Linked DNA regions of Homo sapiens: region 1 is linked to region 2. Evidence: fine-mapped expression QTL. A gene starts in region 2. The other region holds a variant in brackets. All regions are shown on one strand. Distances are from middle to middle.

Region 1 (16,232 bases), 81 kb before region 2:
TTAGTAAGCAGGATGGTGTTGAGGTCTCGGAGGCAGGCAAGGGGTGGGCTCGGAATCTCTCCTGGAAGAGAAAAGAGAAGGGAATTTGGATTCTGTATACAAATATAGAAATTCCCTAAGAGTTTAAATTTGAACATGGCATTCAGGGGAGAAGATTATGGGTTCCAAGCCTTTTCCTTCTTCCCCTTCTTGTGAATAACTCACTCAGCTGCTTGCATCTGTGTCCTAAGGCTGTGAACCGAAGAGCTGGGCAGTCCACAGTTGGTTTGAGCCTCAGAGTACCTTGCTTAGTAAAGGTTTGTTTTAGGAGGGATGACACAAACTTTTGAGTAACTCTCAAGTCTTGAACTATGAAACTTCGTAGGATGTCAACACTAAAATGAACCTTACCGATTATCTCATCTAGTGGTTTTCAAACATTTGGAAAATTGGTACAGCCCTTTTTTTAAGCAAAATCTTAGAACTTGAATAAACCAGGTAGAAGGTGGTAGGCCCAGACTTCCTCTCCCACTCTTGACACCCTGAGCTCCTCCCTCTGTACTCACAGCCCTCAAAGTGCTCCTCTCTCAGAGAACCATCCATTGCAGAGACCAGGGAGCTGTGGCCCATGCCCCATGTAGCACCGTTTCATGGCAGAACCAGCTCTGACTTCCAGGCCAGTGGCAAGTCCCTGCAGTACCTTGGTTTATTTTGATGTAGGAAAAGCTCTGGGTAGTAAGAGTGAAGAGTCAAACAGCTACGACTGAGAGTGAGGAGAAAGACAACACTGCCCATGGTTCCTGACACCCAGGGTCACTTTTTACCAACCTAACTCTGGGTCACATGACGTACTCGTATTCTGAAACTGTTGGTTTCCTGGATGTCTACCTGTGATGTCTTGGATCCATGTGGTTCTCTCTGCCTAAAATATCCTCTCTTGATTCACCTTCTTAACAACAGCTTTCTGGAGATATAATTCACATAACATAACATTTACACTTTTAAAGTGTACGGTCCAATGGTTTTTAGCACACGCAAGAGTTGTGCAGCTAGCTGGGCATGGTGGCTCATGCCTGTAATCCCAGCACTTCGGGAGGGCAAGACAGGCGGATCACTTGAGTCCAGGAGTTCAAGACCAGCCTGACCAACATGGTGAAACCCTGTCTCTACTAAAAAATAAAAAAATTAGCCAAGCATGGTGGCAAGCACCTGTAGTCCCAGCTACTCGGGAGGCTGAGGCAGGAGACTTGCTTGAACCTGGGAGGCGGAGGTTGCGGTACTCGAGATCGCTCCATTGCACTGCAGCCTGGGTGACAAAAAAAAAAAAAAAGAGTTGTGCAGCTATCAGCATTCGGCATCCCACGCTGTCTGCCTTTGACAGACAGAGATGCTCTCTGTCTGCACCTTAGTCCTTGGGCTGCTTTGCGACCTGCCCTAACTGCCAGCCCTGCCTCACTTTCTGTAACTCAGCTCAGATGTGGCCCCCTGGAGATGTCCCCTCCAGTCTCCCCTGCTTGGTCGTTTCTATGGGTGACTCAGTGAAATTACAGCAAAACCTGATGAGACATCCCTCCAGTGGAAGGAATCCAGTGTGAAACATTGTGGCCAGACAGCCTGGGTGACTTTTGTGCTGAGAACAGCGAAGCAACCCGACTTGTTGAGTCTGCCTTAGCACCCGCTCCCCCACTCAGACACGTAAACATGGCACAAACACTCCCACTTGAAGGGAAACAGAAGTATTACTGGAATCATGGTAGGTCATGGAGGTTTAGAAGCTTGTGATCGTGAGGATTTTTGGAGAATCTGTTGGAGGAAGCCAGACCTCCGCCCTCTGACTCAGTGGCTCCGTGCTCTGAGCTGGTCAGCCTCTGCTGTGGCTTCAAAGGTCATTCGCCTCCCAAGGGGCTATCAGGACCCCTGGGGCGAGGAGTACAGGGCTCAGCACCTCGCCTGGCTCATCGGGAGACTGAGCAGGTGTGGCAGGATGACTGTGGCTCACCTCCGTGTGTGGGCCCTGGAGGTCACGGAGTTCCTCATCATGGAGCAGATCCTCTCGGACTTGAGGGTGTTTCACAGGCTTTCAGATTCTAAAGTATCCCCTGCGTTGCCATTGCCCATGGTTGCCTGGCCGTGTGACTCCTTATTGTCACTTTCTGCCTCAGGTGTCTCGTTTCTGCTAAACAGAACATGTGAGATTTCCCTGGCATCCCCACCAGTGTCGACGTGCAGATGAATATCAACCCACAGACCCCGATGCTGTTGGTCTGTCCCTCTGGGCGATCATGAGCCCCCCAGATCAGTGGTAAAGAACAGCCCTTCCTATGCTGCCCCATCTGGCTCCTCCCGCATTCGGGTGGCGCGCGCCCTCAGGCTTCCCCCTGCATTCTTATTTTGTAACTTCCATGGTAGCCCATTCATAGTTTTCACCCTAAACTCTAGGTTTAGACGTGGACATTTGGCACACATGTGGTTTATAAAGCCTGAGGCCAGGCCTAACCCTTAGTATCCAGTGATGATGAAATGGATGCATTTCCCATTTCCCTCCCTGAAATTAGGTCTTGATGCTGTACCCTAGTAGGTGGCTGGTATGAGAGGTTCCGTTCGCGTTGACCTTGTGTGAAAAACCAATCTTGCCAAGTACTTCTCTCTGCCACCATCCAGCTGGTGACTCTTTCAGCTGAATTATTTTGCCTGCTAGGTTACTCACCAGGTGTCATTCTAGAGTCCGCACGGCCTTAGGGTGGGATCGCATGGCTTTCATTGAATTACCTGCTGTGTGACCATAGCCAAGTTGCTTAACCTACCTGTGCCTCTTTTTTTCACCTGTAAACAGTAATGTGGGATAATAACACCCCTGCCTTCTGCAGGGTTGCTGTGATGATAAAATGAGGATGTGTGTTACATGCCTTTTAAATGGTAAGACCTAAACATCTTTGCTGTTATTCCAATCATAACTTTGATAGTTCAGTAAGTCCTCACTTAATGTTGTCCATAGGTTCTTGGGAATTATGACCTACAGCAGGCCCTTGAATAATGTTTCATTAAAATGTTGACGAGAACAAAAATTTGGTTTCACTATGTATCTTTTCACTTAAACGAGAGGACAGAGATCCTCTGTGAAATTACAGTGTCTTTGGAGAAAAATCAACTTATATATGAGTTATGTTTGTGTATTTTTACCTGGTCTTTTCCCAAAAAGATTTCAGGTGACAGAAGAATACAAGCCAATACGATAATCTTTTTTTTTTTAATTTTTTGAGACAGAGTCCTCTCTGTCACCCAGGCTGGAGTGTAGTGGCGCCATCTCGGCTCACTGCACCCTCCGCCTCCCAGGTTCAAGCGATTCTCCTCCCTTAGTCTCCTGAGTAGCTGGGATTACAGGTGCTCGCCACAGTGCCTAATTTCTTTTTTTTTTTTTTTTTGTATTTTTATTAGAGGTGGGGTTTCACCGTGTTGGTCAGGCTGGTCTCGAACTCCTGGCCTCAAGTGATCCTCCTGCCTCGGCCTCCCAAAGTGCTGGGATTACAGGCATGAGCCACTGCGTCTGGCCAATAATCCTTAATAAAAATGTGGACTGAGAAAGCTGGACCGAGGACTGAGGACCGTCCGGGAAGAGAACAGCAGCTACCCCGTGCTTGCCTTCATGCTGGGAAGGCTGCGGGTCTGGCTTTAGGAGGAGCCTGTGTAGGGTACGAGGGGCAGCGGCAGCTCCACAGCAGGCGGCAGCCCACGCCCAGTGGGTGCACACCTTCATCCAACTCAGGGCTGGCAGTCAGGAAGATGAAATGCCATCCACGTCAAGTTTCGGTCTGTCTCCCACTCACCGAAGAATAGTCCCTCCTTTAAGGGAGGTGCTGAAGAGTGCTGAGAACTTGCTTCCCACCAAGGCAGGCTTGGGCTTCAAAAGATCAGAACCTGACCCAAGTGGCCCTAGTTTTCCACCATCCCACACCATCCCACCAACGCTTCAGAAGTCCTGCCAGCATCAAGCCGGGCATGAGGCCGTCCAGACAGCTCATCACTGCCCTGGGGAGACACATGCATGTCACAAACCTGTGAGGCTCAAGACCGCATCCTGCACAGGGTGCAGGAGTAGAGGCGGGGCAACGGCCTCTGCCGTCGCGGCTTTGGGAGGTTGCAGTGGAAGAGGCAGGCGTGGCCGAATCAGACCCTGAAGGATGACTTAGGTGGAACACGGGGAAGAAAGGTGGTCTGGATAGACATGCAGGATGCTGGGTGTGGGGCAAGCCTGAGTCAGGGGAGCCTCCCTGTGCTCCTTAGCCTGAGGCCATCGCCTGGCTGTAGGCGGCAGCTTCTCCTGCCGGCTGGCTGGCCGGCTGCAGGCAGTTCTCAGCACTAAGTCCAAGATGACTTCCATTCTGGTGACTCGAAGGTGGTTTTGTATGTTGTGCTTCATCTCTCAGGGACGAGTCCTTAATTAAAAGCAGCCGGGAGCTTAGAGAGACCCTGGCTTCTCTGCACACAGGTGATGGGTTGTGTGCCTGGCCAGGAAATGGTTCATTTAATTAGGCTCCGAGGGCCTGGTTCATCCCCTTCAGGGAAGCTTAAGGTTACATGTGGACAACAGGAGCCTTGTGTGTGCCTGTGGTTGACCCAAATGTAGTGATTTTCATTTCTCCTTTCCATTTGTCTTCTTTGTTCTGCCCCTTCCTGACCCTTTCTTTAGGAAACCGTTGTGGCCCCTTCCAGGCTGTGAGATTCCAGAGGGCAAAGCTTTGGGGTTTGGAGTATGAATGGCTGAAAGCGAGCCCAGGAGGCCTGCTTTTGTTTATTATTTATCTCTGGATGGTCAGGGCACCTGTCTGAGAAAAGAAAGAGATGGAGGGGACTTACCGTTTCCTGAAAAAGCTCTTTGTTGTTAATGGCATGTGGAAGACTCATTTCTAAGTAGAATAAATCATTTGTTGGTCAAAAATGGCTTCCTAATGTTGGCCCTCTCGGCCAGCCTCAGTTGTATTAAACCCTAGGTAACCAACCACAACCCCCGCCTTGAGTCATGTGCCTCATATGAGCAGGTACAGATGCTGCTGCACCCTCGAAGGGGTTACGTGACGAAAAATCCACTGGAAGTAGAAAATGCTTTTAATCCCCCTAACCTGCCAAGCGTCGTGGCTTAGGCTGGCTGACCCTAAATGTGCTCAGAACACACCTACAGTTTGGTGAAAGCACCTGGCGCGCGGTGGCTGTAGAGTGTCATCGCTCACCTTTTTGATCACAGGGCTTGTGGGGAGCTGTGGGAGCTGCTGTCTCCCTGCGTCATGAGGGAGGATCAGACCGTGCATCGCTAGCCCAGGAAAAGATCAAAATTCAAACTACAGCTTCTACTGAATACTATCGCAGAATCAAAAAAATCTTAAGTCAGAAACATCTGTGTTACTCCGCCAGATGTGCTGTATGTACCATTATCTCAAATCTATGTTGCGTGGCTTGCTCACTTTTTTTGTTTGTTTGTTTTGTTTTGTTTTGTATTTTGAGACAGAGTCTTGCTCTGTCACCCAGGCTGAAGTGCTGTGGCGCGATCTCTGCTCACTGCAACCTCCGCCTCCTGGATTCAAGCAATTCTGCCTCAGCCTCCCAAGTAGCTGATTACAGGCCTGCGCCACCACGCCCGGCTAATTTTTGTATTTTTAGTAGAAACAGCGTTTCACTATGTTGGCCAGGTTGGTCTCAAACTCCTGACCTCAGGTGATCCGCCCACCTCAGCCTCCCAGAGTGCTGGGATTACAGGCGTGAGCCACTGTGCCCAGCCATCGCTTGCGTTTTAATGTTGCCAAAATTGGGAAATTGCTTCTTACACTTAATGTGTACACTTAGCGATGTTATAATTACTGGTGCATCTTACAACTTACAGCCTTCACAGGAAGAAAGCAGGCTGTGCTTGCACTTAAAGAATATGGCCCTTGGCCAGGCGCGGTGGCTCATGCCTGTAATCCCAGCACTTTGAGAGGGCAAGGAGGACGGATCACCTGAGACCAACCTGGCCAACATGGTGAAACCCCATCTCTATAAACATATAAAAATTAGCTGGGCATGGTGGTGCACACTTATAATCCCAGCTACTCATGAGGCTGAGGCAGGAGAATCACTTGAACCTGGGAGGCAGAGGTTGCAGTGAGCCGAGATCGCGCCACTGCACTCCAGCCTGGGCAACAGAGCGAGACTTCGTCTCAAAAACAAAACAAAACAAAAAAATATGGCCCTCAGCGCCAAGTGACTTCTTAAAGAGGAGAGAGGCTGGACCTGGAAGTGTCCTCTTGTGTGTGGCCCTGGCAGGCGGGGGGCCAGTTTCTCACTAGGCTCTGCTGGGCAGTAGGCACTGAGCCCCTGCCCACACGCCAGGAGTCCCCGAGGCCCAGAGTGGAAAGGTCACATGTCGGATCTGCTGTGGGCTGTGGGCTGTGGTGAGGGGCAGGAGAGCCCAGCCCTGCAGCCCTTCCCAGGCGACCCCAGGCACCTTGGGTCTGCCGTGACCGGGCACTTGGGGGAAAAAGCTTTGGTCCTCACAGTCCCATAATTCCCCCAATTCTATTCTTTTTTCCTCCCCTGTCCCCTGAGCCTGACTGGGGATGGGGGCAGCTCGCCTTGTTGA[C/T]CCGGTGGGGCCTGGTCTTTGGAAGAGCTGGGTCAGTCTCAAATTGAGATTCTCATTCCTCTCCACCTCGTGTTGGCTGGGACAGCCGGGGCCAGCAGCTTCCCCGTGCCTGGGTTTTCTCATCCACAGGTTGGGGGGTGCCCTCAATCCTGCCTCCGAATAGGTGCGCCATACCCTAGCTCACGTGGCTATTATCCTAAGGAGATATGTTTTGATGCTTCCTGGGGTGAGCGGGAGCCCCTGGGGTCCCCCTCTGGTTACTCAGGGGTACCACTTGCCTGAGTCTCTGGGAGCACAGCTGCTTCCCGTCCAAAAACAAGCTTGGCCACCCGGGTGTGACTTTCAGGCCCGGCGCGAAGCTGCCGCCTGTGCAGGTGCCTTCTCATTGCAGAGGTGGCCATGCTCAGAGAGCCATTAGGCAAAATGGGTCGGAAGCTCCAGCCTCGGCTACATGAAGCTGTGCTTCCGTGGCTCAGTGTTCCTAATGACAAACTGGGGTCCCTGTAACGAAGCTGCCCTTGGGGAGTTGGGGAGCAGGCTTGTGTTTTCTCTACACTAAGTAGTGGTGGTGGGGTGGGGATTCCTGCATCTCTCATAGGCTGGTGGAGGCCATGTGTCCATCTGGACAGACCGGTGAAGGGAGCCCCACTGAAGGGATCCTGACCTGGAGGCCATCTCCCTAGGCGAGGACAGCCAGCTTGCAGGCCCTCACTGGGAGGCCTTTCCCAGCATGTGCTCTTGTACCTTTTTGAATTCTGACCTATGTGAATGTATTACCTATTATACATAAGTAAACACTTTTTTTCTTGAGTCAGGTTCTTACTCTGTCACCCAGGCTGGAGTACTGTGGTGCAAACACGGCTCACTGCAGCCTCGACTTCCCGGGTTCAAACAATCCTCCCACCCTAGCCTCCTGAGTAGCTGGGACTACAGGAACATGCCACCATGCCTGGCTATTTTTATTATTATTATTTTAGTAGGGACGGAGTCTTGCCCTGTTGCCCAGGCTGGTCTCGAACTCTTGATCTCAAGCGAGCCACCGCAGCTGGCCTTTTTTTTTTTTTTTTTTTAATTCTTAAGAAAAGCAGTGTGCCAGGGCCTGCCCTCACACTTGGAGTGACCCAGGAGGTGCTGCGTGCTGCCTCACTGGGTCTCACTCCAGCCGCGCTTTGCTCCTCTCTGTTCTTGCACTTGCCTCAGTGGCCTCTGCAGCAGAGCCTCATGCCAGCTCTTCCCTCTTCTTGGGATGCCCCTGTTATTTTTCCCTGCAGTCTTGGAGGGCCGGCTCCTTGGTCATTATTCACATGTCATCTCTGTGCCACCTCCTAGACTGCTGACTTGCCCCCACAGCAACCCCCTTCTGTCGTCTCCTGCAGGTTCGCTTCCTGCCTCTTTTTTTTTTTTTTTTTTTACCTTGAGACAGAGTCTCTCTGTGTCGCACAGGCTACAGTGCAGTGACACAGTCTTGGCTCACGGCAACCTCTATCTCCCAGATTCAAGTGATTCTCCTGCTTCGGCCTCCTGAGTAGCTGGGATTATAGGCATGCACCACCACACCTGGCTAATTTTTGTATATTTTTAGTAGAGATGGGGTTTTGCCACATTGGCCAGGCTGGTCTTGAACTCCTGAACTCAAGTGATCCACCCTCCTCAGCCTCCCAAAGTGCTGGTTACAGGCGTGAGCCACCATGCCTGGCCTACCCTTGCCTCTTGGAGATGCCTCTGTGGCTGGACTTTGCTGTCAGAGCAGGGCCGCCCATGTCCATCTCTTCCCGTGCTGAGCCCTTGCACCTGACACGGGCCTGGAGCGGGCATTCGGGGTTTATGGAACAGTGTGAATTTCTCCTTGACATGGATGTTGTAACCCCCAGTTCCAGAGACTTAGGAAGGTTACACTCAGCCAGCAAGTGACTGACCGAGGATTTGAACCTGTTCGGTTTCGAGGTTGGTGTTTTTACAGAATGCCACACTGTATATTTTGTTTCTGACACGAGTGTATGTGCCACTTGAAATGCTCTTTTATCTTTTTAAGAAAGTTTTGGGCCTTCTGGAAAAATAAAAGGAACAAATTGTCACAGAGCCCTCTGCTGGACGTCGGCAGCTGCAGCATTCTGGCGTGGCAGTTTCCTCTGAGTGCACCCAAGTACGCAGAATCTGTTTTTGATTCCTATCTTGCTGGTGGTGGGCTCTCGGCCAACAGGCAGATCAAAAGATGGAATGTGTTCATTTGGCCATTTTTTAAAAAACCGAGGTACAAGGGTGCACTTCTTAAAGACAAGGGCGCCGTGGGTTAGACTCCGTGGGTCTGAGCTGCTCTGGCTTTTGTGCTTTTTTTAAGGGTTCATCTCAAGTTTCTTTTTCTGGTTGAACAATTTTTTTCAACATTAATAACTAATGGAGAAGAGGAAGAGGCAAAGTAGAACCATATGGCGGCACAAACACGAACCTCACTTGTGGCCGGAAACTTCTGATTTGTATCTCTTCGTGTGATCAGCTGTTGGGTTGGATGATTTAAGAAAAAAAAAAAGTGTTCAGTTTGGGAAAAGCAGTTTCTTTTTGAACCTAGCTGTGCTGTATATAACTGCATGTCCTTCCTCAGACATTGGCCCGTAGCTGCGTGGCTCCGGTCAAGTTATTTCTCTAAGGCCCTGTTTCCCCTTCTTTAAAACAAGGACTGGAGTGCGTGTCTGTGTGAAGAGCCATTGTCAGGATCATAGGGAAGGGCAGGGAGAGCTGCTAGCATAGTGCCTGCCACGCAGGGCAGGGCTATTACGATCACCTGGTCCTTCCACGGATTATTATTCAGGTGTCACCTGAGGCCGTTGCCAATGGCATCCTAGTCTCTCCCTTACCTTCTACCTTCTGGGGTTTTTTCTTTTCCCTGCCCTAGTTCACTTTACCCACTCCCCACCCGTCTTTCCAGTGGCCTCCTGGGTACCACCGAGCCCGGCAAAAGTATCGGTGGTGAAGGACTTGTGGCTCCTGCTCCCTGGGGTGGGCACACTCCTGTGGCAGCAGAGGAACTGGTGGAGCCCTGAACTCCCACCAGAAAGACGGCAGGCACTGTCCTGACCAGTGTAGTGTTTATTATTCCAAGTCACTGGGAATTATGTTTAAATCCCCCCAACAGCCTGGATTGGTCTGACACCTTTGGTGTTATCTGAACCTTCCCTCCAAGGCCGTTAGGCAGTTCAGATGGGTGGTTTAGACAGAAACCATCCGGCTGCCGCGTGTCAGCACCGCTCCTCCTCCTCAGAGGCCCTCCCTGGCTTTGGAGGCGACAGAGCCAGTGCCACATGCACCCCAAAGTGAACTCTCGGCTTTGTTTGGACCTGTCGTTTCATTTAAATCACTGTACAAACCCATGGTCTGTGACACTTAATGTGATTTCTTCCACTGCTCTAAGCACTCGACATGAGTAGGGGGCGGGGGCCGGGGTTCAGATGAGTGTAGGGACTGGTTAGATTACAGAGATACACTGCCTTCATTCTGGTTCTGTAATATGGCCTCAGACCACAGGATTAATATCCACTTACATGGAATCAGCATGCATTGACTGATCCCTGCTGCAGCGGGCGTGATGCTGCGCTGAGGCTGGAGGGCCTGTCTTGGCCTCTGTAGGTGTGGAGTCAATTCACAATGAAAAATGCTAAGTGGTGAGGAAGGAGTAAGGTGAAAGTCATTGGCAGTATTAGAACAGCCATCCCCAAAGCATTTAGGATTCAGTTGATATTAGTGTTACTGCAGGAATTCTGAAGAATTTGACATCTTGATAAAGAAGTTGGAGTTTGGGCCAGGCCCTGAAGGATCAGTAAGATTTAAGAGAGCAGTGGGGATTGGCTGTCAGATTTAGCAAATAAAAATACATGGCCTGGCCAGGCGCAGTGGCTCACACCTGTAATCCTAGCACTTTGGGTGGCCGAGGTGGGTGGATCATGAGGTTAGGAGATAGAGACCATCCTGGCTAACGTGGTGAAACCCCATCTTTACTAAAAATAGAAAAATTAGCTGGGCGTGGTGGCACACACCTGTAATCCCAGCTACTCGGGAGGCTGAGGCAGGAGAATGGCATGAACCTGGGAGGCGGAGCTTGCAGTGAGCCGAGATCGCGCCACTGCACTCCAGCCTGGGTGACAGAGCTGGACTCCATCTCATTGAGAAAAAAAAAACACACGACCCATGTAACCTTTAGGAAGTAGTCATACTAAAATGTTATTCATTGTGTATCTGAAATTCAGACTGAACTGGCCTCCCTCTGTTTTATCCAGCAACCCTCAATGGGGAAGATGTTTAAGTGGGGGAATGCACGTGCATGTTCAGGGAGTGGTGAATGGGACCGTGTGGTTGTTTGAGGAGTTTCGGGCAGAGGTGGAGGGACGGCGTGGGTATGAGACGGGATCAGTGATGGTGCCAGGTCGTGACTAATGCACCTTTGGGCAGCTGCTGTGGTCCAAGTCTGTGGGCACACCATGTATTATTCCACATTTCTCATTCCCCATGACAACGAAAATGTTATTATTCCAGAGCAGATTATCTTTGATCAAAAGAAACAGCGCTGATGGAAATATGGCCAAAACTATGGCCCAGCTTAAGAGTTGATCCAAAAGGCAAAAATGGTGCCTGCTTGGGTGGAGTCCGTTGGCCATATCAAGTCCCAGAGGCTTTTCACTGTAGGACAAGCAGTGCCAGTTTTTGAGTTCCAGTTTAAATGTATGTTTTTCTGGGGTTGGTTAGTACCTGGCATACTGGCTTTCAGAAGTCCCATCACAGATCTTCAAGGGTGGTCTGTCTCCGTGCAGCTCATCTACTGTGTTTGACAAATGAACAGTCTTGGGCTTTGCCTAAGGTTCCGTGGCCAGCTCACAGCAGAGCAGAGGCTAGAACCCAGGTCTCTTAGTTCTCACTCTTTCCACCAATGCTGTGGCTCCTTGAGGTCATATGTTAATAAAAAATGCCAGGGCTTTCATGACAGCTCCGGTTCTCTTTGTTCAGTGCTTTCCCACCATACCATGGTTCATATCTGAGAGTGCTGGGTTGGAACCACACAGGAAACTTGTCATCAGCATCCATTCAGATTTAGTTCTGGACAAGTGCTTTTGCTAAAGATTCCTATTACCTGCCAATTTATTAATTTTAAAGTAAAGTTGATTGGAGTTTGGGAGGCTCCGTGTTGTAAAACTCCTCCTTTCCTCCCTCTTTCCCTCCTTTCTTTCCTTCCTCCCAAATATATTAAGCATTTGCTGTGTGTCAGGCACAGCCACAGGCACTGAGAATCCTGCAGTGAGTAAGATCGAAGTCCTTGCCCCAGTAAAACTTACATTCTAGTGAGGGATACAGATAACTGATCAATGAAAAAATACTCCACCTGGTGTTAAGTGCTAGGAAGAGATTACTCAGATGCTTTCGATTCATAGATGAATCTCTTGGATAGGAGTAGAGTCAAGCCTCTTTTATACCAAACCCTATTTTCTTGTGAGCTTTCCTACGTTGAGGGGACTTAGCTGCAAGCAGTGTGCCTGGCAGGAGAAGGGAAACAGCTGGCTCCAGGTGGAACTGGGGTGAAGCACCGGATCCTCACAGGTACGTTTGTACCCTGTGTCTGAAGCAGCACAGTGAATTCAGGTATGATCCAGGCTATTGTTGCCATCTGAGAGTAACAGGTGACAGATGATATTGTCTAAAGGAAGGGAAAGGAACCTGAACGTGTCAGGCAGTAACATACGTGCATTTCCCTGTGCCAGGCTCTGCCCTGAACACGGAATGCATTGTGTCATGTGGGTCCTCAAAATCACATGGGCATGGGCACCCAGATGGGTTGGTTTTATTATCCCCATTTTACAGGTACGGAAACCAAGTCTTAGTAGAGAAGTAAAATGACTTACCCAGGCCATAAGGCTACTTGTACGCAGCGGAGTCAGGAGGTCTAACTTCAGACCCTGTTTGCTCAGTCTCTACTGTAATTGAGGAAAAATTGAGCTGATGGTGTCAGGACTCCAACCAGAGAGAATGGGTTCCAGGCAAAAGTTGAGGCCCAACAGATAAGCCAAGGCAGCATCCCAGCATTATAAACAGAGATGCTTAGGGACAGGCATGATGTGTTAGGTGAGGTGGCTTCATTGGCTGTGGCAGCACAGCAAGGCCTCTTTCAGGTCCCAGATGGCCTCGGGTGGAAGCTGTTAGACCTTCCTTCCTCAGCCAGGACTTCCTTCCAGTTGAAGGGCTCTGTGGCCACAGCTAAGCAGGGCTGGGGCTAGGAGAGGGCTGTTTGCCACCAGAGGGTGCCTTTAGCATGCACTGTCCTTCCCCTTAGCTGGACATTAAACCAAAGTTAGAGTAGGAGGAGTAGGGACTTTGGACTCATCTGGCCCTGGTTTTGTTTTCTGTCTCCACTGCTTGCTTCTTGTGTGGCCCTTGGGTAACTTTATGGCTCCCGGCCTCAACTCTAATCTGTAAAATGGGGCTTTGCATACCCACTTTGCAGAATGCGTGTGAGCTTTCAAGTCAACAATATGCTCTACCATAGTGCGTGGTGCATGGCAGGCACATGGAAATGGTAAGGTGCATGATATTATCACCAAAACCAACTTTGAAAGTAGCCCCCATTTTTATTATGTTTGTTAGGAAAGGGCAGATACACATGGAGAAAGAATTCTGAAAACAAGCACAGGTACAGGCCAGGCCTGGGGGCTCACACCTGTAAGCCCAGCACATTGTACACAGGGGTTGGTGGTGTATGTCTATCTCTTTGGGTACTGTCCCCTGTATAAGAAACAGATCATCTCACCAAGGCCAGAATTTCTGTGAGTTATGAGGCAGGGTTACAGTCCTTTAGTTGTGCTGGGCGTTGCTTTCCAAGCTGAGTTCTAAAGCACCCTGGAGGGGCAGCAGAGGAGCCCGTGGAGGCTGGGTGGTCCCTGTGGTGGTGGGACTCCCTGTCCCTGCCTGTCTCTTGGATGGTGGCAAGGGCCTTCTGGAAGAACACAGGAACCACTGTCGCTGTCAGCCCGTCTGCTGAGCTGCTCTGCTGGTGTCTTTGCCATACGATGGAATTTTTCCACTGGGAAGGGTTATTGGTGCAACTGGCAGGCACTTTCCTGGTAAACGATATGGTGGAGCCCCCATAAACCCAGGCCCATGAAACAAATAAGTCAGCACATTGAAAATATAGCGTGGAAGTGACTCAGGCCTGAAGGAATCCATTTCTGAAAGTGCTGCCATCCCTTTCTGGGATATTTTGGTAGAAATTGATGTTTGAGTTGGGAGGAGGAGGCCAGTGGCCTGGTTACTTGCAGAGCCTTGTGTCAGAGTCGCAACATTGGCCCAGAGTTTGAGTCCTGCCAGCCCCCGACCGCGGGGTCATCTTTCTTGGTGAGGCGGCCCCCTGGCAGGCCAGCCGGAGGTGAGCCCACTGGGGCTCTGTGCTGTGGGGGAGCCGGGGTGAAGCTCTCTTTGCAGCAGATAGAGTTGACTCTACAAGCCAACTGGTAACACTTGGCTAGGGGCCTGGAAAGTACTGGAGACTCCACCCAGCATAGGAGCCTGTGGGAGTTCCCGGCACGGACGAGTTTTTCTACTCCGAGTTCTTTAGATTCCTGTGTATTTGAAATGTTTACCTTCTTCTCGGGACTTCAGCTTGTACTTTGCCCACCAGAGACCAATACCAAGCACATACACACTTAAATTTACTAGGCCACCCTGGTGACCAGGTAATTAAAGCTGCACACAGTTTTTGGAAGGAAGACTGTATTAGAAATCACGCTCCACTGTAATTCAAGAATGGGTTTCTTTATAGAGGGACACAGTTGGTGTCAGACACATGTGGAAAAGAAAAGAACAGGCCCATAATTTTGTCTCAGTGCCCAGGGCCAGATGTTAAAGGTACTGACCACAATATGGCTGCAGTATTGTTAGCCACCTGAGTTTGGTGTGCTGTTTTAACCTCTGTTTCGACCTTGTCCTTTCTCTCTGCCAGGTCCCCAGTCTATGTGAGGATCTCCTGTCTTCTGTTGACCAGCCACTGAAAATTGCCAGAGACAAGGTGGTGGGAAAGGATTACCTTTTGTGTGACTACAACAGAGATGGGGACTCCTATAGGTGAGCTCATGCCCCGGGGATGCAGCAGGCACAGCAGGCACACGCGGGCTGCCGTAGGTACCTGCTGCAGAGCACGGGGACCTTGGACTTGGGCAGCTGGCAGCCCATTCAGCTTTCCTTCCGTTTGTTCCCTGCCCTCCTCTCCTTTCTTCTCTTGTCCTCCCCATTCTTCTCATCGTTCCATCTGTTATTCCAATCATGCAGCAGACGTTTGAAGAGTGCCACCCACAAGCATGAGAGATAGAGCAGCGGACCAAAGGCCCCCTGCCTTCATGGATCTTCCAGTCTAACGGGAGAGGGATGTTGTTCAAAAACAACTGTTCTATTATAATTGCATTCAGTCCTGCGGAGGGCAGTGTACAGGGTGCGCATATGATGGGGATCCTGAGGGCTGGGAGGGTCTCTGTGGTAAGGGATCTACGAACGCAGCTCTGTCAGATACACAACTCTCCTCTCTCTTTCCGTCACCTCGCCCAAGGCTGTAAATAACTAAGTTGACATTAGTCCCTGCCCTGGGTGTCTGATCACCAGGTCTAGCATAGGAGACACATTGGGTAACTGGTAACTGTATGATGTGATTCATACAGCCAGTGCAAAGTCTGTTCAGGGTGGGACGGTAGCACAGAAGAGGCCATGGTCAACTCCAGGAGGACTTCCTGAAGGAGGTGATGTCTGAGCTGGGTTTTAAGGGCATGTAGGAGTTATACCTCTATTTTTTAAGAGTGGGAATCCTTAAACTGGCCCAGTGTTTCCATGATGAATTGCAGTAGTCACTGCCTTGGAGAATGGTAGAGGAACACAGCCTGCTTTAGGTTTATTTGGAGACCACAGAACCAGGGTTGTCTTGAAGCTTCACCCTGATGCTCTCTTTGGAGATGGGGCAAGGCTTCTGGGAAGTCAAAGCAGGAAAAATGATCAGGAGTCAGCCAGTGTGGGCTTCAAACCAGCACAGCTCCCTGTGTCAATGGGACTTTGACAAATCACTTATTGTCGCTGGTCTTTTAGTTTTGTCATCTGTAAAACGGAAATAGTAGTGTTTCTTTACTCAACAGAATGCTTCCTGAAGAAAATAAAGAGGACAGTGGGAGGGAGGGAGAGGACGGGCAGGCAGGGAAGGCTCTCCCACAAGTGGGAACTGGAGGATGAAAAGGTCCAGGTCTGGGGAAGAGCCTGCTGGGTGCTGAGGCCCTGGGTGATGAGCTCACCAGGATGGAGCTGGCAGAAGGCCAGAGGTGGAGAAGGCAGTGAGGGGAGGGCAGTGGGGGCGGAGATGAGGGAGGAGGCATGGCCAGGGCAGGTCTGGCAGGGTCTTGAAGGCCAGGCTGAGGGTAATAAAAGTTAGCACAGGGTTATTTATTGGGGGGATAAAAGAAGTAACACACGTGAAATGTTGAATGGCACAGACATTGTCATATACTTAAAAAGTTTAATACTGACTTATAAGAGACTAGACAACAGTTTTATAATCATGTCCCTTTCCTGGCTTTAAATGGAAATTAGGTAGAGATTATATTTTGCCCTCCTTCAGACCACAGACTAGAGTTGAAAT
Region 2 (9,498 bases):
GTGGTCTGGCATGACTGCACAGCCAGAAAGTGGGCTTCCTCTTTTTTCCCTGTGCTCAGAGGGGATTTCCTCATCCAGGTGGGGGCTGTCTCTAGCTGCCTTCATTCCCACTTGTGTCAGGAGGCCTGGGCTCCCCAGCTAGTCCCTGGCTGGCCCCACGGAACTGCTGAGGACACAGAGACCAGGGAGCACCGGGAGGGAAAGGAAGTGAGTCAGCACCTCCTCTCAGGAAGCCGTAGACCCTCAGCCCTAATGTGACTCGCTGTGGGCAGAGACCCTGGACCTAAAGGTAAGGGTGCCCCAGGTCACTGTCAGCCCAGCTCACTGGACTACCTCCAGGGCCTGGCACAGGCAGGGAGGCTGAAAGCCTCTTCCCTGTGTCTTCGTGGCCCACCTGGGGGACCATCAGCACAGATGATGTTGGAAGCCTTCACCTGATGCTCCATCTCCGGCCCCTGAAAGGCCACTCCAAATTAACATATAGTCCAGGTGTGGCCGGGCGCAGTGGTTCACACCTGTAATCCCAGCACTTTGGGAGGCCAAGGCAGTTGGATCACTTGAGCTCAGGAGCTGGAGAACAGCCTGGCCAACATGGTGAAACACCATCTCTATCAAAAATACAAAAATTAGCCAGGCGTGGTGGGTGCGTGCCTGTAATCCCAGCTACTCAGGAGGCTGAGGCAGGAGAATCACTTGAACCCAGGAGGCAGAGGTTGCAGTGAGCTGAGATCGCGCCATTGCACTCCAACTGGGTGACAGAGCAAGACTCTCAAAAACAAAACAAAACACAAACAAACAAAAAAAAAACCATATAGTCCAGGTGAGAACTACACGTTTGCAAGGCCAAAGGCATTTCAAATCAAGTCCTCATGTTCTCAGCCACCACTGCCAACTGGGGTGCACCCCCACACCCCCTTGCAGAGTCTGAACACAAGGCTGCAGCTCATCCACTGCCATCCTCACCACTCCCCAGCAAGGTTGGGTATACTGTGCTCATTTGACAGGTGAGGCTGAGCAGCCCTGGAAGTGAATTAACCTGCCTGAGCCTGTCCATAAAATGGGGCTAACGACACTCACTCCTTGGGGCAGCTGCCCTGACTAAATGCACATAAAGCTCTCAGCCCTGTGCCTGACAACACATGGCAGCGACTGTTTTCAGGATGAGAGTCCAGCATCTCAACCACCTTGGGGACTCTCCCTCTCATTTCCCCCTTTCCCCAGGTTAGGGAGGAAATGAAATGGACACATCTCAGCATGTGTGTGTTGGGGGGTTGTCTCGAGGAAGGTACCTTGGTTTATGGCCCCTGCGGCCTCTCTCTCACTTCCCCCTTTCCCTAGGTTAAGGAGGAAATGAAATGGATGCACCCCAGTATGCGTGCGTGTTGGGGAGTTGTCTTGAGGAAGGTACCTTGGTTTATGGATCCAGGATACTGGGTGGGTGTCCCCCTGACCTTGGACAGGACCCATGTGCAATGTGGAGCTCGGGACACTCTGAGACACACCTGATCCCTGAACAGAAAGGCCTGGCTCTGAGGGCCATCCTGCGTAGTTCCTGTCACCTAGAAGCCAGGCATGGGCCCACATCCTGTTCAAACAGCTCTGAGCAAATGGATGTCCAAGGTTGCAATGGAGCTTGACCTCACCTGCAGGGATGGGAAGGACCCCAGAAGCGGTACCCTGGAATCACCCTTGGAGGGTGCATGTTCAAAATTTGGAGTCAGTGCACCTGGGCTGGGGCTTAGAGATTCTGGGTTTAAGAAGCCCTCCAGCGATTCTGCTCCATCTAGTGCACTTTGAGAAAGGTTGGGCTGGAGATGACATCTCCTGCCACACCCAAACTCCTCTCCCTGATCCCAAGCTGAGTCAGGGTGCTTCGGGCACATGATCACAGCCAATCATGTGTCCACCTTTGTCTACAGGATGAAGTCCAAATTACCTGAGGCTAGGCCTCAAGTTACTCCAAGAACTGCCCTCCCAACCTTATCTCCTGCCTCCTGACCCACGTCTTCAGTCATTTCAGGTCTCCAGGCTTCTGCACGTGCCATCTCTTCCCCTAGAAGTGTCCTGCTCCCCTTCAAGGGCCTGGTCATGAGATAAGAAGACTCACTTCTAAATTGCCCTTTCAAAGATGCCCCATGAGAGCTGGCTGGACAGGACCTTCCACCTCCTCCTCTCCCCTTGTCCACACACCTGAAGAACGCTACCACCGTCCTCTGCGACCACTGTCTTTGAAACGTACTCTCCCCACCCTGGGTTGTGCATTTCTTATTCTCCAGGTGTAAACACACCTAGAGGTTCAGCAAATGTTGAGAGACAGTGAGAGAAAGAGAGAGGTAGAGAGAAGGACAGAGTGAAGAAGAGAGGAAACGGGTGAGAAAGGAGAAAGGGTGGAAGAGAGAGAAGAGGAAGGAAAGGAGAAAGGAAGGGGAGAAAGCTGTGAGCTCGAACAGCCCAGGGTTGAGGAGAAAAGCACTCTGGAACAGACCTGCCCGATGCCTACCAGTCTGGAACTCAAGTGATTGAGCTTCGTAGTTCTCATCTGAAAAGTAGGGGAATAATGCAATACCCACCACCTAGGCTGACTGCAGAGTTAAATGAGACAATCCAGGCCAAGCGATTACAAGGGTGCCTGGCACTGGCACTCAACACCAACAGCCCAAAATGACTATTATTTGTTCTCATTGTAGCCCCTCCAGCGTCCGGGCACACAGGCGCCTTCAGTAAGCGTTGATTAGACATGACCTGTGACCCAGGCCCGGGACCCCTCACACTTCCAGACTCAGACTCTCCATTTACACGTTTGGAAACCTACCCTAAGCACGGCGTGGGAGGAGGCAGTGTAGGCCCTCGGTCCCTGCAGACCTGGGGAGATTGTGGAGGGAGGAGCGTCCCAGCTCGGGGCTACCACCCACTCCAGGCCTCGGCGTCCTCGGCCACAGCTCCCTCCTGGTGACTCAGCCCGGCGCGGGCCGCCTGTTTGGAGGGATAATGATAGGACAGCTGCTGGGGCCAGCGCCGCGAGGGCCCCTCGCCCGGCCGGCCCGGGAAAAACGAAGCCATCAGATGCCAAGGGGCCGGTCGGCCGGGGCAGGGCAACTCCTGGCCAGGCCAGCTCGAGAGGCCGCGCTGGTCGCCTTTGAGGTGGGGGGCCACTGGCTGCGGATTCCCGAGGGCCACCCAGTCCCGGCCCGGAGCCTCGTCCCACGATATCGCGCCACAAGGAGGGCGCAGGAGCCGGGACAGTCCAGCGGCCGGAGGAGAGGGCTGGAAGGATGTGGCAGGGAAGCCCAGGAGCCCCGACCCCCAGCCGTGAAGTTTGCCACCTGCCCCCGGTCCGGCTCACCACGTCCAGATCCGCCGCCAGGGCCCAGCTTCTGGGTCAAGGCCCGCCGGGTCAGCTGACCGCGCGCCACCGCCCCCGCGGGAACCGCAGGCCCCGCCCCCACGCCGCGCGCTGGGCTGACCGGGCCTGGAGGCGCCGCTGGGGCCGCGCCTGTTGTCCCCGCCCCCAACTGCCTCCGCGCTCCTCCCCGGCATGGGCGGGGCCCCCGGCTCCCAACGCGCAGGCGCCGCTGCTATGCTGAGTGCCGCGTCTCGCGTAGTCTCCCGCGCCGCCGTCCACTGCGCGCTTCGCTCTCCGCCGCCCGAGGCCCGCGCGCTCGCCATGTCCCGGCCACCGCCACCGCGGGTCGCCTCGGTGCTGGGCACCATGGAGATGGGGCGCCGCATGGACGCGCCCGCCAGCGCCGCGGCCGTGCGCGCCTTTCTGGAGCGCGGCCACACCGAACTGGACACGGCCTTCATGTACAGCGACGGCCAGTCCGAGACCATCCTGGGCGGCCTGGGGCTCGGGCTGGGCGGTGGCGACTGCAGAGGTAACAGTAGCTGCAGATCCTCCCCATGCATCGTGTAGAGCTGAGCCTGTCCCCAGCCGTGCACCACCCCGCTCGGGCCCGGCCGCGGGCAGCACCGACGGATTCGTCCCTCGCTCCCCACCCCAGGTCCACCCCGCAGCTCTGGGAACCCCGGGACAACTAGACAGTGCTTTGCCCTGACTCCTTTCCCCCACTCTCCTTCCCTTGGGAGTTGCAGCGCGAGAGTCTCCCCCCAGCCTGGTCTGACCCATCGCTTCCCACCTCCATTGATGCCCCCGCCTCCAAACCTGCCAGGTGCCCACAACCGGTCCCCACCCAGGCTCTCCCCCTTTTCTCTACCCCTTCGTTACCATCATCACGCATGCACACCCTGGGCACCCTTTTCTCATCCTGGCCTTTTCTTAACCACTAGAATTTGACCTGTGCAGCTGGCAGTACCTCTGCCTCTCTCAGGGAGAACTGTGGCGATGCCGTAAGGCTGGCTGGGAGAGTAGGAGTGTTAGGGAGTGCGGACGGGTCAGGGTGTAGGGACTTTCTATCCACTCTATGCCAGGCTTTGACTTGGGGCCATAGGAGGGAAAGTGATTCCAGCCCTCCACAGGGAGTTCAGAGTCTAATGAGGAAGATTGAAGTAATGATTGCTGGAGAGCCCAGAAGAGAGAGTACTTTAGGGAGCTGCAGGCCGGGGAGAGGCACTAGGGAAGGCTCAGCAAATGCTGGATGGAGCTCAGCCTTAAAGGCTCAATGGTAGGTTGGAGGAGAACAAGAGAAAGGAACATTAGAGTCTGTGCAAAGACTTGGTTTGGAAATGCAATGTGCGTGATGTGTGAAAGGAAGGCCACTGGGCAGGTGGGGCTTGAGTGGAGGATGGAGGGGACTGTCCCTCGTGAGCCTGGTGCCCTTGATAGCCCTTGGGAGGGTGCCTGGCACTCAGTGAGGGCCCAGGGAACGTGGGCTGTTACCCTTACCATGCTTCACCCACTGGACTATCCTGAGGCTGTTGCTCCCCACCCCTGAGGAGAGGTTCTCTCTGGGTCCTCCTGAGTCATAGCGCTTGGGGGGTCGGGGGGAAAAGAGGGCAAATGTGAATCTCAGGCCCACGCTGTTTCTAGTTCACCTGGCTGCATGTTGTTGTTTTTGTTATTATTATTATTTGAGACGGAATCTTGCTCTGTCACCCAGGGTGGAGTGCAATGGCACGATCTCAGCTCACTGCAACCTCTGCCTCAGCCTCCCAAGTAACTGGGATTACAGGTGCACACGGCCACGCCCAGCTAATTTTTGTATTTTTAGTAGAGATGGGGTTTCACCATATTGGCCAGGCTGGTCTTCAACTCCTGACCTCAAGTGATCTGCCCACCTCAGCCTCCCAAAGTGCTGGGATTATAGGTGTAAGCCACCACGCCCGGCCACGTTACATACTATTAATAATGAAGATTTTGTTCCTGAGTTGGTTTTTCTTCTCTAACCCTTCCCCGCTTCCGTCTTTGGGGCCAGGAGCTCACTGAACCAAAGTCCTCAGGCCAGGCCTGAGGCACAGTTCATGCCAAGAATGCCTGGGGCGTTGTGGGGAAATGGAGAAAATCTGGATGAGAAACTGTGGAACTTGTTCTGTCCCATATCCCAACTGATCTCGTGACACCCTTCTGAGCTACTGAGCTGACTTTGCTAAGTATGAAAAGTGCAGAATCCATCCCCCAACCAATCCAGACAGCTGGGGTTCTTTTTTTTTGTTTTGTTTTTTGTTTTTTGACACAGAGTCTCACTCTGTCGCCCAGGCTGGAGTGCAGTAGCACAATCTGGACTCACTGCAACCTCTGCCTCCCAGGTTCAAGTGATTCTCCTGCCTCAGCCTCCTAAGTAGCTGGGGTTACAGGCACGTGCCACCACGCCTGGCTAATTTTTGTATTTTTAGTAGAGACAGAGTTTCACCATGTTGGCCAAGGCTGGTCTCGAACTCCTGACCTCAGGTGATCCACCCACTTCAGCCTCCGAAAGTGCTGGGATTACAGGCGTGAGCTACCTTTCCTGGCCCAGCTGGGGTTCTTTTTTAATTTTTATTTTTGTAGAGGGAGGGTCTTGCTACATTGTCCAGGATTATCTCAAACTCTTGGGCTCAAGTAATTCTCCCTACTCAGCCTCCCAAAGTACTCCCAAACTAGGTTTACAGACTTGAGCCACTACATCTGGACCAACAGCTGGGGTTCTTTATAGGGGAAAGAATAGTGCAGAATTAACTCATTTCCAAGCTGCTCGGATGCAGAACACTGTTGTCATAGCGATGTGTCCCTACAGTGTTTGGATATATGCTCATGCTTCTGTGAGTCAGGAAGGGGAGGGGAGAATTATAATTACATTCTGCTCAGTTTGCCTTCTAAGCTCTCAAGTTGATCTCTACCACTGGGCCACATTTATGTGGCTGCTTCGCTTTCCTAAACTCTTCCAGGCCTGCCCCCTTGACTTCTTTCTCTATACTGCAGCCAAGTGTGAACACAGGTGACCGGTTCACACCCTGACAAAATCTGGAATGATCAAGTTCAGATTCAGTGGGATGGTATTTAAGAACTTTTGGGATGAGGTCTGTCCCTGTCTCTTGTCCTACGTCCCACTGCTCCTTGCTCTAGAATTTATGCTCTTATAACTTAGACTTGAAGGTTTGGAGCCTCACATAGTGTTTTTTTGCCTCTTTGACTTTGCATGGGTTCCCATGCTCTGGAGTGTACTTCCTGCTCTTCCTTGTTGGCTGGGACTCTGGGAGTGATCCCCTAGAGAAAGCCTTCCCTGGAGTCTCCAAGTTGGCTTCATGCATCTCATCTGGGCTCCTTGGCATCGTGTGCCTTTCCCTCCTGTGCTTACCATATTGTACCATCATCCTCTAGGGCTCCAGGAGGGCAGAGATCCATTGTGTTCAGTTCATCTCTGCATACTCAGTCTCTAGTGCAAGGCCTGGCACAGCCAGCAGGTTGGTGACTAATGATAGTTATTCTAATAGGTGAACATTGAGAACTCACATATATGACATTATTTAATCCCCAGGACCTCCCAATGAGGACAGTTTGATTATTATCACCCCATTTTACAGATCATACAATTGAGGCCAAGAGAATATTAGTAATTTAGCCAGGGTTACATGGTTAGCAAATGGCTCTAATAGGTCACTTAACCATTCCATTCTCTCTCCAAGTGAAAATTGCCACCAAGGCCAACCCTTGGGATGGAAAATCACTAAAGCCTGACAGTGTCCGGTCCCAGCTGGAGACGTCATTGAAGAGGCTGCAGTGTCCCCAAGTGGACCTCTTCTACCTACACGCACCTGACCACGGCACCCCGGTGGAAGAGACGCTGCATGCCTGCCAGCGGCTGCACCAGGAGGTGAGGGGGCCCTCCGAGCTCCAAAGGTGGGCTCCTGCTCCTTTCTTTATCCTGATCCTACTCATGAGAGCAGAGGCACCAGGGCAGTCCCAGGGTGGGGCAGGGAATAGCCCCATTCCCTGGGGCCCCACCCTGGCCTCCCCTTCCTGGTCTGGGCTACACTGCGTTCTGACTGGAGCCTCACCCATGCAGGGCAAGTTCGTGGAGCTTGGCCTCTCCAACTATGCTAGCTGGGAAGTGGCCGAGATCTGTACCCTCTGCAAGAGCAATGGCTGGATCCTGCCCACTGTGTACCAGGTGAGGGCCGGGGCTGCAGAGGCCAAGGTCTCCAGGACTCCTGCTAATCCTGGGCTCTCTTTGCCCCCCTGACTGCCCCCTGTGCCGTCTGCATAGCAGCCACTCCCCTGCTGAAAGCCTGCAGATGGCTCCCATGTACCCTCAGGATGCCATTCAAGCTCCTCAGCCTGGCCACTGGGCATCTGCTTCCTTCCTGCCTATCTGTGCACCTTGGACCCTTCCTTCCCCACCTCCTTTCATACTTCAGCCTGGAACACATTTCCCCTGCCCTCCTCCCTGGGAGAAGCACTCAGGCCTTACATAGAGGTCTCCTCCTCTGGAAGCCTTTCTAGACAGCCCCATAGGAGTCTCCAGTCTCCAAATCTCATCTTCATACATTCAGCGAGTACTTTCCAGCTCCTTGTTTGATTGTAGAACCTAACTTTATTGTAATTAACTGCCTTCCTTGTCTATTTTTTTAAACTTGAGTAAACATCTCCTGGAAGCAGGGATTTTGTGATACCTACTTGTGGTTGTAACCAGTGTCCAGCATGGAGTTCATACAGCAGATATTTGTGGAAAGATACCATTCCACTTCAATTTTCTGTCCTTGGGCCCAACACCTTCCCTCCATCCCCTACTAACAGTAGTGATGTTAGAATATTGCTGAAGTCCTGGGCCGGTGTTGCTTTAGAGGTTTGAAAGTGGAAGGCAACAGTTCCTTCTCTTGACATGTCCACCCTGTCCCCGGGGTCCCTCTCCCTGCAGGGCATGTACAACGCCACCACCCGGCAGGTGGAAACGGAGCTCTTCCCCTGCCTCAGGCACTTTGGACTGAGGTTCTATGCCTACAACCCTCTGGCTGGTACGTGGAGCATTCCTGACCCTGTCTCAGCCTATTCCTGACCCACAGATGCCCAGCCCAGAATTTATGAAGCAGGGAGGGTTTGACAAGAGGCTGGGCTGTGTTCTTCAGCCCCTCCTGGGTCCCTGCCCCTCCCCTAGACCAGAGCCCTGAGGGATGTGGCAGCTTCTGGGGCACTCTGGGGCCAGGGGCTGATTGCTGCCTTCCCGCAGGGGGCCTGCTGACTGGCAAGTACAAGTATGAGGACAAGGACGGGAAACAGCCTGTGGGCCGCTTCTTTGGGAATAGCTGGGCTGAGACCTACAGGAATCGGTGAGCCGGGGGTGGGCTTGGTGAGGATGGCTGGGGTGGGGTCAAATCTATGTGGAATGAAGTCCTGGGCTGTTCCTGAGGTAAGACCTTCCTTTGCTGTTTGCATCTCCTCCCCTGCATTGCTTCAGGAATTCCCAAGCCCTCTGTGGGTTTTCTTGTTGTCTTGAGACCTCTGGGGGGGAAATGAGGATCCCTGGATGTTGGGGTCTTGAAGTCATAGCTCGTTCCTGAGCAATCACCTGCTGGGAAGCAAAAAGCGAGCCCAGGATGGGCCAGGCATGGTGGCTCACACCTGTAATCCCAGCACTTTGGGACACCGAAGTGGGAGGGTTACTTGAGCTCATGAGTTCAAGACCAGCCTGGGCAACATGGTCTCTACAAAAAAAAAATGCAAAAAAGTGGTCAGGTGTGGTGGTGCACACCTGTCTGTAGCCCAGCTACTTGGAAGGCTGAGGCAGGAGGATTACTTGAGTCTAAGAGGTTGAGGCTGCAGTGAGCCATAATGATGCCACTGCACTCCAGTGTAGGCAACAGAGTAAGACCATGTATCAAAAAGCAAAAAGAGAGCCCAGGAGGGAATCCTGCCCCATCTGAGCAGCCTTCGTGTCCCTAGGGAAGTCCCTAGGCTACTGAGTCCTCAGGAGTAAAGATCCATTGAGGTCTCTGCTGAGGGGCCCAGCATCCTGGGTGGTTCTGATGCCCAGCAAAGTGGGAGACCTATGACTAGAGAGGACACCCGCCCCTCAGGGCTGCAGGGTGTGGGGTGGGGCAGTGGTCCTGGATGGCTATTTGGTTGCG

What was found. PIP is the estimated chance that this variant, and not a neighbour inherited with it, causes the effect.
Region 1: its variant is fine-mapped to the expression of SLC66A1 in whole blood (INTERVAL, PIP above 0.99).

Annotation. Positions count from the first base shown.
Region 1 is chr1:19,383,956-19,400,187 of GRCh38, reverse strand. It overlaps CAPZB (capping actin protein of muscle Z-line subunit beta), which reads left to right. Exons shown (of 9, transcript NM_004930.5): 3 at 14,562-14,683. Among named protein-coding and RNA genes, the nearest start is that of SLC66A1, 80 kb to the right of the region's middle. RefSeq lists enhancers at 7,014-7,153, 8,686-8,735. The variant C/T (reference allele first, on the strand shown) is at 6,590.
Region 2 is chr1:19,306,204-19,315,701 of GRCh38, reverse strand. It overlaps SLC66A1 (solute carrier family 66 member 1), which reads right to left and starts at 3,376. Exons shown (of 8, transcript NM_001040125.2): 1 at 2,813-3,376. It overlaps AKR7A2 (aldo-keto reductase family 7 member A2), which reads left to right and starts at 3,558. Exons shown (of 7, transcript NM_003689.4): 1 at 3,558-3,875; 2 at 7,060-7,247; 3 at 7,440-7,544; 4 at 8,292-8,388; 5 at 8,601-8,700. The coding sequence starts at 3,578. RefSeq lists enhancers at 1-253, 3,468-3,967 and silencers at 3,067-3,156, 3,237-3,876.